3 separate regions of the Homo sapiens genome follow, and regions 2 and 3 are each reported to be linked to region 1. Evidence: microRNA targets listed by miRTarBase, many of them from high-throughput screens and not tested one by one. Region 1 holds a microRNA gene; each other region holds the end of a gene's coding sequence.
The links. The annotated mature microRNA hsa-miR-876-3p reads UGGUGGUUUACAAAGUAAUUCA and lies in region 1 at 2,231-2,252, shown strand. An mRNA with a match to its seed (bases 2 to 7 or 8) in the 3' UTR can be bound and repressed. Matches are read on the target gene's strand: a 7mer-m8 pairs with bases 2 to 8, a 7mer-A1 pairs with bases 2 to 7 and ends in A, and an 8mer does both.

Region 2: miRTarBase lists NDST3 as a target of hsa-miR-876-3p. Seed matches in the 3' UTR shown: 7mer-A1 at 2,184-2,190.
Region 3: the mRNA of USP53 is a reported target of hsa-miR-876-3p. Seed matches in the 3' UTR shown: 8mer at 1,623-1,630.

Annotation. Positions count from the first base shown.
Region 1 is chr9:28,861,207-28,865,887 of GRCh38, reverse strand. MIR876 (microRNA 876) reads left to right here and starts at 2,182; the gene lies at 2,182-2,262. The region is part of intron 2 of LINGO2 (leucine rich repeat and Ig domain containing 2); the gene reads left to right.
Region 2 is chr4:118,255,478-118,259,477 of GRCh38, reverse strand. It overlaps NDST3 (N-deacetylase and N-sulfotransferase 3), which reads right to left. Exons shown (of 14, transcript NM_004784.3): 14 at 844-3,885. The coding sequence ends at 3,766. It overlaps LOC105377392 (a long non-coding RNA gene), which reads left to right. Exons shown (of 3, transcript XR_939113.3): 2 at 403-502. Among named protein-coding and RNA genes, the nearest start is that of SNHG8, 21 kb to the left of the region's middle.
Region 3 is chr4:119,292,512-119,296,511 of GRCh38, forward strand. USP53 (ubiquitin specific peptidase 53) reads left to right here. Exons shown (of 19, transcript NM_001371395.1): 19 at 1-3,007. The coding sequence ends at 700. ARLN (allregulin) reads right to left here. Exons shown (of 2, transcript NM_001001701.4): 2 at 3,908-4,000. Among named protein-coding and RNA genes, the nearest start is that of ARLN, 6.1 kb to the right of the region's middle.

The sequences.
Region 1 (4,681 bases):
AACTTAATTTTACATTTGGATTGGAATGGTTATTCAAAGAGCCACTTAAGATCTCTTTAAGTTGAGATGATTGTTTTTTGTTTCTTTGTTTTGTTTTGTTTTTTGAGACAGAGCCTCTCCCTGTCACCCAGGCTGGAGCGCAGTGGCACGATCTTGGCTCACTGCAACCTCTGCCTCCCGGGTTAAAGACATTCTCCTGTCTCATCCTCCCGAGTAGCTGGGACTACAGGCGCAAGCCACTATGCCCGGCCAATTTCTTGTATTTTTCTAGTAGAGACGGTGTTTCTCCATGTTAGCCAGGATGGTCTCGATCTCCTGACCTCATGATCCTCCCGCCTCGGCCTCTCAAAGTGCTGGGATTACAGACGTGAACCACCACACCCGGCCAGGGTGATTTGTTTTTAAACCCATGTCAAACTCTAAATGTATTCCACCCAACTAGTATGCCTGAATTTCACTGGGGAAACTGGCCTGATTCTTCAAGAGGTTTTGCCTGGGCCAGTTTGGGATTGAGTGTGACACTTGATGAAGAGCTGGAGGACCTTTGTATAACTGCTCCTTTACTCTGCCCATATTTCAGACAGGTTGCCTCATTATTCTGGAGTTCTCTTACTTCAAATTTTTCTGTCCCTGCTGCCTCTGATCTGGTGATGCTCACTTGTGTTCACCTACTCTAACTGTAGCAGCAGTTTTCCTTTTCAGCTATAGTATACCAAAAAATAAAATAAAAATCACGTTATTTCTTTGGATAGGCCGTGGTATATGTGTTCTCTTCTGCTTAGAACACTTACCCCACCCTTCTCATTGCTAATTCCTGCTACTCTTTCAGTTCTCTTATATATGGTATTCCCTTAGAGAAGACATCTGTAATCAACGCTCTTAGCACTGAATTAAGTGGCCTCTCCATGTCTCCATTAGCCCTATATGGAAACTTTTCATAACACCTATTACTGCTTTTTTCAAATTCTTGTTTTCTCCTTTGTATTTCTTGAAACCTGGAGTTTTTATATCCCCAGCATCTAACCAAGACTATGCCTGGCACATGATAAGCGCAAAACAAATATTTTTTTTTCATACATACATATTTTCTACAAATTTTTTATTTAAATATTTTTAATTATTCAGATACTTAGCAAGTTTGGCTTGGTTGTTATATGTGTGGTTGGTGGAGGTGAGTAGGGTATTCCTGAGCAGTGACCTACACTGACAGTGGTGAACTGCCTAGGACTCTTATGTTCATGAGCTTCTATAAAGCAAACTTTTAATTAATGTTGACATTTGATGGTTACTTTGAAAAATGTTGAAATTTTCAAAAGCATGAATTACTTGATTGATATTATGCTTACTAGGCTGGGAAGATTTATAGATTCTTTTCATTAATTATAAATGAAACCTTTCTTTTTGCTCTTTAGATAAAAGTTAAAAGGTGGGATTCTGGTTATTTTGCAAAGGAGAGTAACTTTATTGTTTGTTTTTCATTTTTTATTGGTGTGGTTTTCTTTCAGAGTTGAACCTAATATGTATAATATAGAATTTAGTTTTATAAACATTCTTGGACTTCAGCAGTCATATGAAAAAATACTTACTTGGACAAATATCAGAGGAAAAAACACTCAGGTTAAACTCATTTAATGATTGCCTTTGAACTTTTATTTTAAGTTCAGGGGTACAAGGGCAGATTTGTAACATTGGTAAGCTTGTGTCATAGGATATGAGATTATATGAGTATAAAGTGGGAAGCTAAGTAACTGAGGATATCTTTAGAACAAATTATCCCAGCAACACTTATATACTGTGATATGGATGTGAGAATTACATATAGTTTTATTATTTATTCTACTCCCTACTCCTGACATCTATATTAATAACCATGCCCTTTTATTTTGATGAGCAGAACCCTGTTTTTTCATCCTGCATAATGTCATGCTAGTTATTGTATTAGGAATTCTTTTAAATGAAATTTACTGGTATATAATATAGAAAGCATGCATTTATTTTTAAGTTTTATTTACTTAAAATAAATGTTCAGTGTTTCTTGTGTGTTTCAGCTAAAAGAGGGTGGTGCAAAACTGAGCATATTCTTCAATTGATTGTGAACTAGATGGAAATACTTCCTCAACTTTTGGTGGCCAAAGGGTACTGTTTTTGTTGGTTCATAGGTACCAGGCTTTACACAAACTGTGAAGTGCTGTGGATTTCTTTGTGAATCACCATATCTAAGCTAATGTGGTGGTGGTTTACAAAGTAATTCATAGTGCTTCACAGGTGCTTCTGCAGTTGATCTACACCATGAAGCCTAAGATTCCTTTACTGAGCCATTGAGAACAAGCCACTTTGTATTACAAGACACACAAAGTCAAGAGATCCCTGGTAAATATACTCTAGAATCCTTCTATTTGGTGCTTAGTGTTAACAGTGATCAAACCTGTGTCAAACACACCAGAAATTATGGTTACTTTACCTAAATATACATGTTTTACATAGTTGCTGTCTCTGTCTCTACTGTTCTTTTTTTGAAAAGTAATTTGTAATATTTCTTGGTTAAAAAAACATGATACATCAGAAACATTAATTGAATCAGCCCCTTAAATCCTAAGCATACCATTTTGAAGTTTAAATATCATATTTTATTTGGATTATTATGCCCAATTAATATATTAATTAAATAGTTTGGTAAATGATCAGGGGCTTGAAGACATCATTGTTATGCAGTACTTTTGTAAAAAGCAACATTTTATTTTAACAAGAAAAACATTGGTGTGGGCAAAAAAAATCACCTTAACATACCAAATTGTACATTTTGATGGCATATATTAAAATTAGGTATTCACTGGGCATTCATTTTCATTTACTCTTCTGGAAACAGTATCTATAGTCCTATTCTATGACAGAAAAGATTGTGTAACCTTTACAAGGTCACAAAAGCCTAATTGTTGACTAGTAATTGCTTATTAAAATAAATGGAACTTTGTGGTCATTTCTGTCATCAGGATTACCAAGAATGGATTATCCCTGACCATAAATCAAACAATTGATGATTAACTATTTTAATAACTGATTAAGCTTTCAAATAGTCATTTTGGTTTTACCGTTTTTTATTTATTTCCAAGGCTAGAGCGTAGGTCTTATTTAAGTTCAATGGTATGACTATAAGACTGTCAGAACTATGAAAACTTCTGACCTTTAATTTCTTAAGTGACACATCTGGACACCTAAGTGACAGTGGTACAGGCTTCTGAAATTACTTTTGCATCATCATTGAATATATCTATTGTATTCATTATGACTTTATTTTGTCCTGTTATGTTTCATTCCTTAGAAGTGGATTATGCATATGCTCTATAAGGTTGGGTGACTTTAAATAAATTAGCATACTAATTTTTAAGCCCTTCTGTTAGATAAAAGAAAATCAGTATATTATTTTTCAACATATAAATGACCAAAAGAATGAATCAATATGTATACTTTTAACCTTAAAATATATGTGTATAAATATGATTGGAAATGCTTTACCTAAGAAATATCTTGCTACTCTAATTTAATTTGAACTATGATACAAACATGTTATTCTTATTTCCTAGCCTTTAATTCTTCAGTATTTATTATTACCATTCCTTGTCTGATACATATGTAACCTTATTTTTCATAGGACTGTATGTTCATAAGCAAAATCCACAGAGCTCTGGGATTTCCTGTGCTTTTGTTGGGTGCTACTTTGCTGATGTGTGAGGACAGGTGGGAAAAGAGTCTGAGAAGACAGGTTTCTGAAATTAATTTGTCCTAGAGCTCTTTGATTTTTCTGTTTTATGAAAGGGGGCACCTGTAAAATTTCCTTTGAGCCGAAGCTTATGTTTTTAATGATAATATGTAGAACTGCTGATATATGAATTTAGAAGGAAGTCACAATATTTTTTCTTAAGATAATTTTTAGTTTACGGGAGATATAATGGGATGTGCTAATGGACTAATAAGCATATCTCATAATCATGTACCTATATCCTTGTATCCTAATTTTAATCCCAACTTCTTTATATTTATTTCACTACCGCTTTTTTTATTTTTAAGATAAATACAGGTTTACAAACAATGAATTAATTTTTAGTGTAGGTTTTGTGTTTTTTGGTAAGAGACAAAAAACATATGTTGCCCTGGCTGGGGTGCAGTGGTGCAATCATAGCTCACTTCAGCCTTGATTTCCTGGGTTCAAGCAATCATCCCACTTCAGTCTCCTGAGGAGCTGGGACTACAGTGCCTGCCACCATGCCCAGCTAATTTATTTTATTTTGTTTTATTTTATTTTATTTTATTTTTGTAGCAACACAATCTCACTAGATACTCATGCTTGAGTGCAGTTATGAGTAGAACATGTGTTCAAAGTGAACCTGAGGTCTCCTGTTATGGACAAGGTAATATCAAGCTTCCCTAATTTCTGTGAGAACTATATGAGAATAGATATGTTTAAATGAATGTTATCTGTGAGAATTTTCTAGAGAACAGAACCAACAAGATTTTTGTGTGTATATATATATTAAATATGTATATATATTAATAATATATATTATATATAGTATATTATATAAAATATATAATATATAAAATATATAATATATAAATATTATATATTTTATATAATATTGTATAAAAAATATATATTATATATTTATATAATATTATATAAAAA
Region 2 (4,000 bases), not on the chromosome of region 1:
GGAATCTAAGTGAAACTGTGTGTCTTAGAGTTCTCCAAAAAAGCCGAATTAATAAGGCTGAGAAGTCTCATAATCTGCTGTGCAAGTTGGAGACTGGGTGGTTAACGGTGTAATCCAATCTGAGACTGAAAGCCTGAGGAACAGGGAAGCCAATGCTGTAAATCACAGTCTGAAGGCAGAAGATGAGATGAGATGTCCCAGCTCAATCAGTGAGCTGTGTGTGTGGGAGGCAAGCCTGTGGGGTATTCAGCTGGTGCCCCGAGATAGGGTGGGTTGCAACATGTGAAAAGCTGATGTCTAGAAAAGAAAGGGATTGGAAGAGAGAAAAGAAAATGTGTGGAGAATGAAGATAAATGGCTAAATTTAAACTCCCCGAATCCCCCCTCCCTCCTTTTTTTGCAGAGATTGTTTTGCCAGATTTTTAGAAAAGAGAGATGAACACCTTTTAAACTCTGAGGAAAGAAATGGGCTCATTGGTATGGAGCAGAACAGAATACTAGGGGTAAGAAATGCTATAATCATTCCTGTTCTGAAGTCCATTTAGTAACAGCTGTGTGATTCTCTTATTCTCTTATTCTAGGGTCCCATAAATGACCTAGAAACTGCATTATATTTATTAGAACTAAAAAAAAATTCACTACAAGTAACATATAAATTTAGGAGGAGAAGGATCTGTGAAAGGTTTTATAAATATAGGATAGATATATATCCTACTTGAAAATTTTCTATCTCTTCATTTTGAATTATGTTAGTAGTATCTATGTTCCGTAACCACCTCCCACTCACTCCCAGGCCAAAACAATAAAATACCTACTGTTACCTAAAATCACCAGGTCCAAACTCTTCATTTTCCTATCAGTTTATTGTTGTACATATGAGGTACCATGCTACTATCAGAATTATATCTAGGTTTTTTATTTTAAAAAACTCAGAGAAAAAAATGTTTCCAGTAATTTTCATTCAATGTGAATGACAAGAATATTACAGCTATAAACATTGAAATAACCATTTCATTTCTTCCTGAGGAAGTTTCATATTTTAAACAATGAAAAAGGGAATTCTATACAAAGCTAGTTTTAAATCAGATTATCTCTCATTATTCTCTCATATGTATTTATGTTACTTTCAGATTAGCATATTAACCAGTTGGAGTATATAATGTGGAAAGTATGCATGTCCTCTAGAATTTGATGCTGTCTTCAAGACACATTGAGTGGTCAAAAATCCTTTCACAGGTTTGCTGCTCTAGCTAGCGTAATACATGTACTTGTGAATGAATAAATTTTGGTAAGATCTCTTCCTTTTTCTCCTGTCTTTATACAAACACGGAGTATGTTTTTGACATCTATTTAAAAGGATGAAGTGTTCAGTCAACTCGATTTACCTAAACAAAATAGGCCATTAGCAGCTTTGCTTAGCAGTTCAAATGTACATCTTACCATTAAAGCATAAATGTATCAGTTTTTCTTTTCTTTTTTTATTAGAATAAATGTTGTTGCCAAATGAAAACATGACACTGTATATAACTGCTGAGGCCTATTCTCATGTTTAACCTTCCTAAGCCAGTTTTCTTAAGTTGGTGGAGATGGAAGACTATAGTAATTTTCCTAGCATGTCTGGCATCTGCTGCTATAAAAGAGACAGCAGTAAGCATGAAGACTGTGTTTCCCATATTTGTCCAAATCACTTTGATTTTGCTTTTAGAGTCAAGAGTCTTAAAAATTGGTGATTTTTCCAATTTTTTCTGCTAATAGTATATTTAAAAATTAGCATATGCTTTAGGTACATGAAACTTTAAAAAAGTAATTATAATGTACAGTTAAAAATTTATAGTAAGTGGATCTCACAATTCATTTTCTAATTAGTAATTGATAGTTTTACCCATTAAAATGACAATGAAAATATTTTTACTATGGGTTTTCCTCCCATTTGTTTCTAATCATACCTTTGATAATATTTTATAAAGGCTTATAATCATAGCAGGGAATTAATTTACTACTTAAATTTTATGTATATGTACAGTACATTTAAAAATTAAGTAGTCAGGGCATGGTGGCTCACGCTTGTAATCTCAGCACTTTGAGAGGCCAAGGTGGGTGGATCATGAGGTCAGGAGTTCAAGATCAGCCTAGTCAACATGGTGAAACCCTGTCACTACTAAAAATACAAAAATTACCCGGGCGTGGTGGTGCATGGCTGTAATCCCAGCTCCTCAGGAGGCTGAGGCAGGAGAATCACTTGAACCCAGGAGGCGGAGGTTGCAGTGAGCTGAGATCACACCATTGCACTCCAGCCTGGGTGACATAGTGAGACTCTGTCCCCCTCTCAAAAAAAAAAATTAAGTAAATATTAACAGGAAAATAAGTATGATGTATTCTTTTCTTTTTTGGAAACTTTATTAACCATATATATTATTTACAATTGAAATGTAAATATATTTCAAGAGCATGACTTGCTCATCTTTGTACTTCCTGCATTTAATTTAGTAGCTAATCCTTAATTGTACCTATGATCTGTTACTTCCACCAGAGTGATGGGTGAAATATTTTCAAAAATGGGCCTCTGCTCTGCTTATGTTTCTTTGCCTTATATCAAAAGTATCATTGCAAACATTAGATTACAAATAATATATTAATTTGTTTTTTGTTATAAATCTCTACTACATTACATAATTTTATTTTGAACTATCTGGGAAAATGCAATTTTTTAATAACCTAAATGTAAATAGCCTAACCACATCATCTAGGGAAACTGTTTTTAGTTTTAGTTTAATAGGTTTTGTTTTGGGGAGCATTAAAAATAGCTATTCACATTTAAAAGTCAACCTGTTTCTGGAGATGACACATACCTCAGACTCTAGGCATGCATTTCTGTAGAACTAGTGAGGACTACTGGGATAGATTCACAGCTTACAGCAAGTGGACATAGAATTCTCGATGATATGTTTTTAGACCCCTACAATTTCTCCCTTTTAGAGGATTCAGTCAGTACACTTTACATTGTTATTTACTGTTTTGGTGTACTTGATGTGTTTCTATTTACCATCCAACAGCTTTACAGTATATATTTCAGTATAACAATTACGTTGTGATGGAAGAGTTAGTAATTTTTACATATATTCACTAGACTATGTATATGAAAAAATCACTTTTGCTATAGCACTTATTTTTTTTTGGTGCAGATAACACTCATATATAACTTTTCCACTCTGATCTAGCACAAATTATAATTTACAATTATTTCTAAATACTTAAGTGGATTTAAATTTTGGCAAGCATTTTTCATGGGTGTTATGCTTTTGACATTTTATGCTACATTGTGATGTTTATTTTGCTTCTTGTTTCATAGGACACTTTATAGAATAAAATAATAAGAAAACATCGTACAGGCAAACAGTGGTCTAAAAACCTACAGAGACACAATCTTAGTTGATATATAAAAGTGTAAATATTACTATGAAATGGAACAGTTCTGCATTTGTGTTTGATATTTATGTTGGTTGCAATTGACTTCCACATGAGTGCACAGTAGTCTACAATAATCCCACAGGCTCAGATATGGGTTAAGAGAAAGGCCACAGGCCTCAAGGCTTGTAACACATACTTTTTCTTTTTTTCTAATCATCCACGTGCCAGCACATGGAAGAAACTGTTCTTTTTTCTCATTTGAAGAGGTATATTTTTCAACTGCCTTTTGGTAGCTTCTGGAAGCTTTGGAAAAGGTGTGTTCTACATGGACGATGAAGTCTCAAGTTTTCTCTCAGTGCTATCTTACTTTCTGCAGCTCCTGTCTCAGCCAGGATGGCAGAGGCTGACCCAGTTTGTGCAGCAGCTTTGAGAGTTCCACGTTGTGATCTCGATAGTAGCTTGACAGAAATGTCCTGCTCTAAGTGGAGAGGAGGAGAGAAAAGTACATTTTATTTTGTTTATTACATTTCATACACTTTGACTACGTTGAAATAAGTACCAAGTATACCAGATCTGGATTAAAATTTGTATTA
Region 3 (4,000 bases), not on the chromosome of region 1:
GCCTTTTCACGTTGATAACTCTGCTTCTGGGAAGAGAGTGAACAGTAATGAACCATCTTCATTATGGTCTTCACACCTAAGAACTGTTGGGTTAAAGCCAGAAACTGCTCCTCTCATCCAGCAACAAAATATCATGGATCAATGTTACTTTGAGAACTCTCTATCCACAGAATGTATAATTCGGTCAGCCAGCAGATCTGATGGGTGTCAGATGCCAAAACTTTTTTGCCAGAATCTACCACCCCCTTTGCCACCAAAGAAATATGCTATAACCAGTGTGCCACAGTCAGAGAAAAGCGAATCTACACCTGATGTCAAACTTACAGAGGTGTTTAAAGCTACCTCTCATCTTCCGAAGCACAGTTTAAGTACAGCTTCAGAACCAAGTTTAGAAGTGAGTACACATATGAATGATGAAAGACATAAAGAAACATTTCAAGTGAGAGAATGTTTTGGCAACACACCAAACTGTCCATCCAGCTCCTCAACTAACGATTTTCAGGCAAACTCAGGTGCCATTGATGCATTTTGCCAACCAGAACTAGACTCTATTTCTACCTGTCCAAATGAGACAGTTTCATTAACTACCTATTTTTCAGTTGATAGCTGCATGACGGATACATATAGATTGAAATACCATCAGAGGCCCAAGCTCTCTTTTCCAGAGAGCAGTGGCTTTTGTAATAATTCACTATCTTAGAGTGAAAAAGGACTAGACCTGTGTTACATAATAATCTTGGTTCAAGCTGCCCTTCTGAACAAAGATATAAACCTAGCATACATTGTAATAGATAACTGGTAAAACTGACCAACTTTTACTTCTCAGAGGCCATTTAAATATAATAGGAACCTACTGACCAAACCTAGTGATACATAAAATTAAAGCCTGTGGCATTTTTAAAGTTGTTAATCACTATACATATGTATGTGTATATGTGTATACACATATATAATTTTATGATCAATATCTTAGATATTTTAGAAATTCCCTTTGAATAGTCTTGGCGTGCCGTGAAAAATAGAAAATCAGGGAGATATAATAATTCATTTGTCATATGCTACAGTTGAATAAAAATTAAATTTGTCCCCCTATTTTGTGGCCAGTAGACTGGGAAGTATTAAACTAACCAGTACTCATGTATGGAGATTATAAACTATGCTAATTGAAAAGTACCAGGTGATACATAGCCTGGTACTTTTTTGTCAAAGAATTGCTTTATGAAGAAGCACTTTCTAATGGGTAACCAGAAAAGGGCTTCACCCATTTGTTTTTGACTTCTATGATAGTCACTGCATATGATCCCTTTAAGTGTCTTTAAAAAAAATGACTTATGAATTTGATAGCATTTGGGGAAAAAAAGCCTTATATGATTAACAATTTGTAAGTTTTCAAGATCGGATGGAATTTAATTTTGCTCCTAGAATTTTTGTCTTCAGAATATCTAGTTAAGATAAATTAGGCCTTTGACTATTATAGGTATTCATAAATGCTACTTTAGCCATGTAAGTTAAAAAGTTAAAATACTTAAACTTTAGTGTATTTATTTATCTCGTTACTTTTTTTCTAATTTTATATGAAATGTGAAAGGTCTTTATTTTGGTTTGGTTTACTTTGGGCTGCTAACCACCAGTGTTAGGAATTAATGTAGGGCACCCTCTTATTGGGAATGTCACTGTAATTGCCTACATTTTCTTTGCTGTAATATTACCTGCTTATAGGTTGTCAACCCATTTTATCTGAATTTGAAAATCTATCTAGGTTTCCAGATTAAATTTCTACCTTTCATATAGAGAGTTTAATTTTAATAAAATGTTTAATTAGAGCATCCTTCCCTTTTATTCTACTTTGAACAAATAGTAATTTTACCCCAACTACTTTTCATGAAGAGTGCTTTGAAAATTAAAGGAATTTTTATTATTATGGTAACCTTATGAGTAAAAATAAGTTACTTTAATTGCTTTATTTCGTTAGTTGTCATTTTATTTTGTACTATGCTGGTAAACTAATTGTGGTTTAGAATAGTTTTATGTTCACTCCTGATAACTGAGAAACAGAACTAAAGTTTTCCTTACATTGCTAAATGGATAAACCTCATATTCAATAAACTAGTAAATGTAGCCACTTGACTGATTGCGTAAATCGTGTTAAAACATTCTAAAATGTTGTAACTAATTTAATGTGAATACTGTTAAACAGAAAATAATTGCTTATAAAAGTCTAACTTCACCCAGTTACCAAGTCTTGGCCAAATTTTATCTTCTGCCTATAGTTTTTACTAGCCTTTTTAAACTATAATAGTGAGTGATCATTACTTTATATTCTCGTAAGTTAGAAATACTTGAATGCCAAATTAATTTTGTTTTAAGAAAGCTTATTTTTAACATAATTTTTTAGTGTGGAGGGTTTGTAAATAATGTAAAGTTTGTAAACCTGTATTTAAAATACCAAAGTTTTTCTTCTTTTATAACATTGTAAGATACTAGAAAAATGGGCTTCAAGTTTTTTAATAGCTTTCACAGTTTGTGTAGTTTTTTTTTTCTATTTGGTTAAGATGTGAGTTGGAAATGTATTATTTGAAACATTTAAACTAATTTTTGTATTTAACAGCAGTCTCAGACATTTGTCTTTTCAACTCAGTTGAGTTGTAGATATCAAATAGAAATGTCCAGTTTTGCCTCTTTTAAGTACTGTCCAGTTGAAACCTCCTGACTCATGTACTACTACACAAACTAGAAAATGCCCATTTATTTTTGTTGATTCAACACTCCAGATACAGATTGATACATATATACTAATCATTTTATTTCATGTAAAAGTTTTACATCTAGGGTGCCTATTTATTTTTATAGATGCTTTCATCCAGTTATAAGCTTATTATAACTTTGTAAATATTTCAGCCAACAGTTGTAATGTTTAAAATACTTACCTTCAGAATGTTATATTTTCATGTGAAATCAATTTCTTCTAATTCAAAAAAATTTTAAGATAAACTGATTTTTAAGTTTATATGATTGGACTTCTCTTTGCATTCATGAACTGTGTGTCACCCTCCCACCAACGTGGATTATTTTGGGACATGTTAAGTCGCGGGTACTTGGAATTTCACTGATCATAAACGGTTATCACAGGAGATCCTAGGAGTTAAACTCCAGCAAGGTCTAAAGCACAGCTCCTTAGAAAAGGAGTTGGCAAACTTTCTATAAAGATAGAAAATAATTTAGGCTTTGTGGACCATAATATTTCTGTAATAACTACTCAACTCTGCCTTTGTAATGTGAAAGCAGCCATAAACAATATGTAAATGAATGAGCATGGCTGTTTTCCAGTAAAACTTTGTCAACATAGAAATCCAGATTGCATATAACTTTCATGTCATGAAAGTTTTTTTTTTCTCCATTTTAAAATGTAAAAAATATTCTTAGCTCACAGGCTGAAGTCTCCAAATGTACTCCCATGCCACTTACGGACTGAGTATTTGCAGCTCTTTACATCCTAAAACGTTCAGGTTAAGCTCCCTAAAAACTATCCCTTGCAACTGCTAACAAGCCAGTTCATTTCAAAAGGAACTACTAAAACAATCATTTCACTTTATATAAAATGGTGTGAAATTTACAAAAGAATTTATCAGAGTAAAGTCACATTTTCTTTTGATGTCTTTTTTGTTTTGTTATCTTAGCAAGTTTGCAACTTTTCTTGGCGTTCCATTTATCCACTTCTTAAAAGCCTTCAAACTGAGGGCAATGTAAGCAGTCACTATACTTGCTATGGCACAGTTTAATGGTAGGTACAATTTCTTACCTATAGGAAAGATTCAGCCTTCATACTGCCACCATTTTGAAAATGCCAATTACAGTCATGTCATATTACTAAGTCAGGGTTTGCCATAGAAAGAGAATCAACAGGATATATATAGAAATAAATTTATTATGAGGGATTGGCTCTTGTGATTATGGAGGCTGAGAAGTCCCACAATCTGCTTTCCGCAGACAGTAAGCCCAG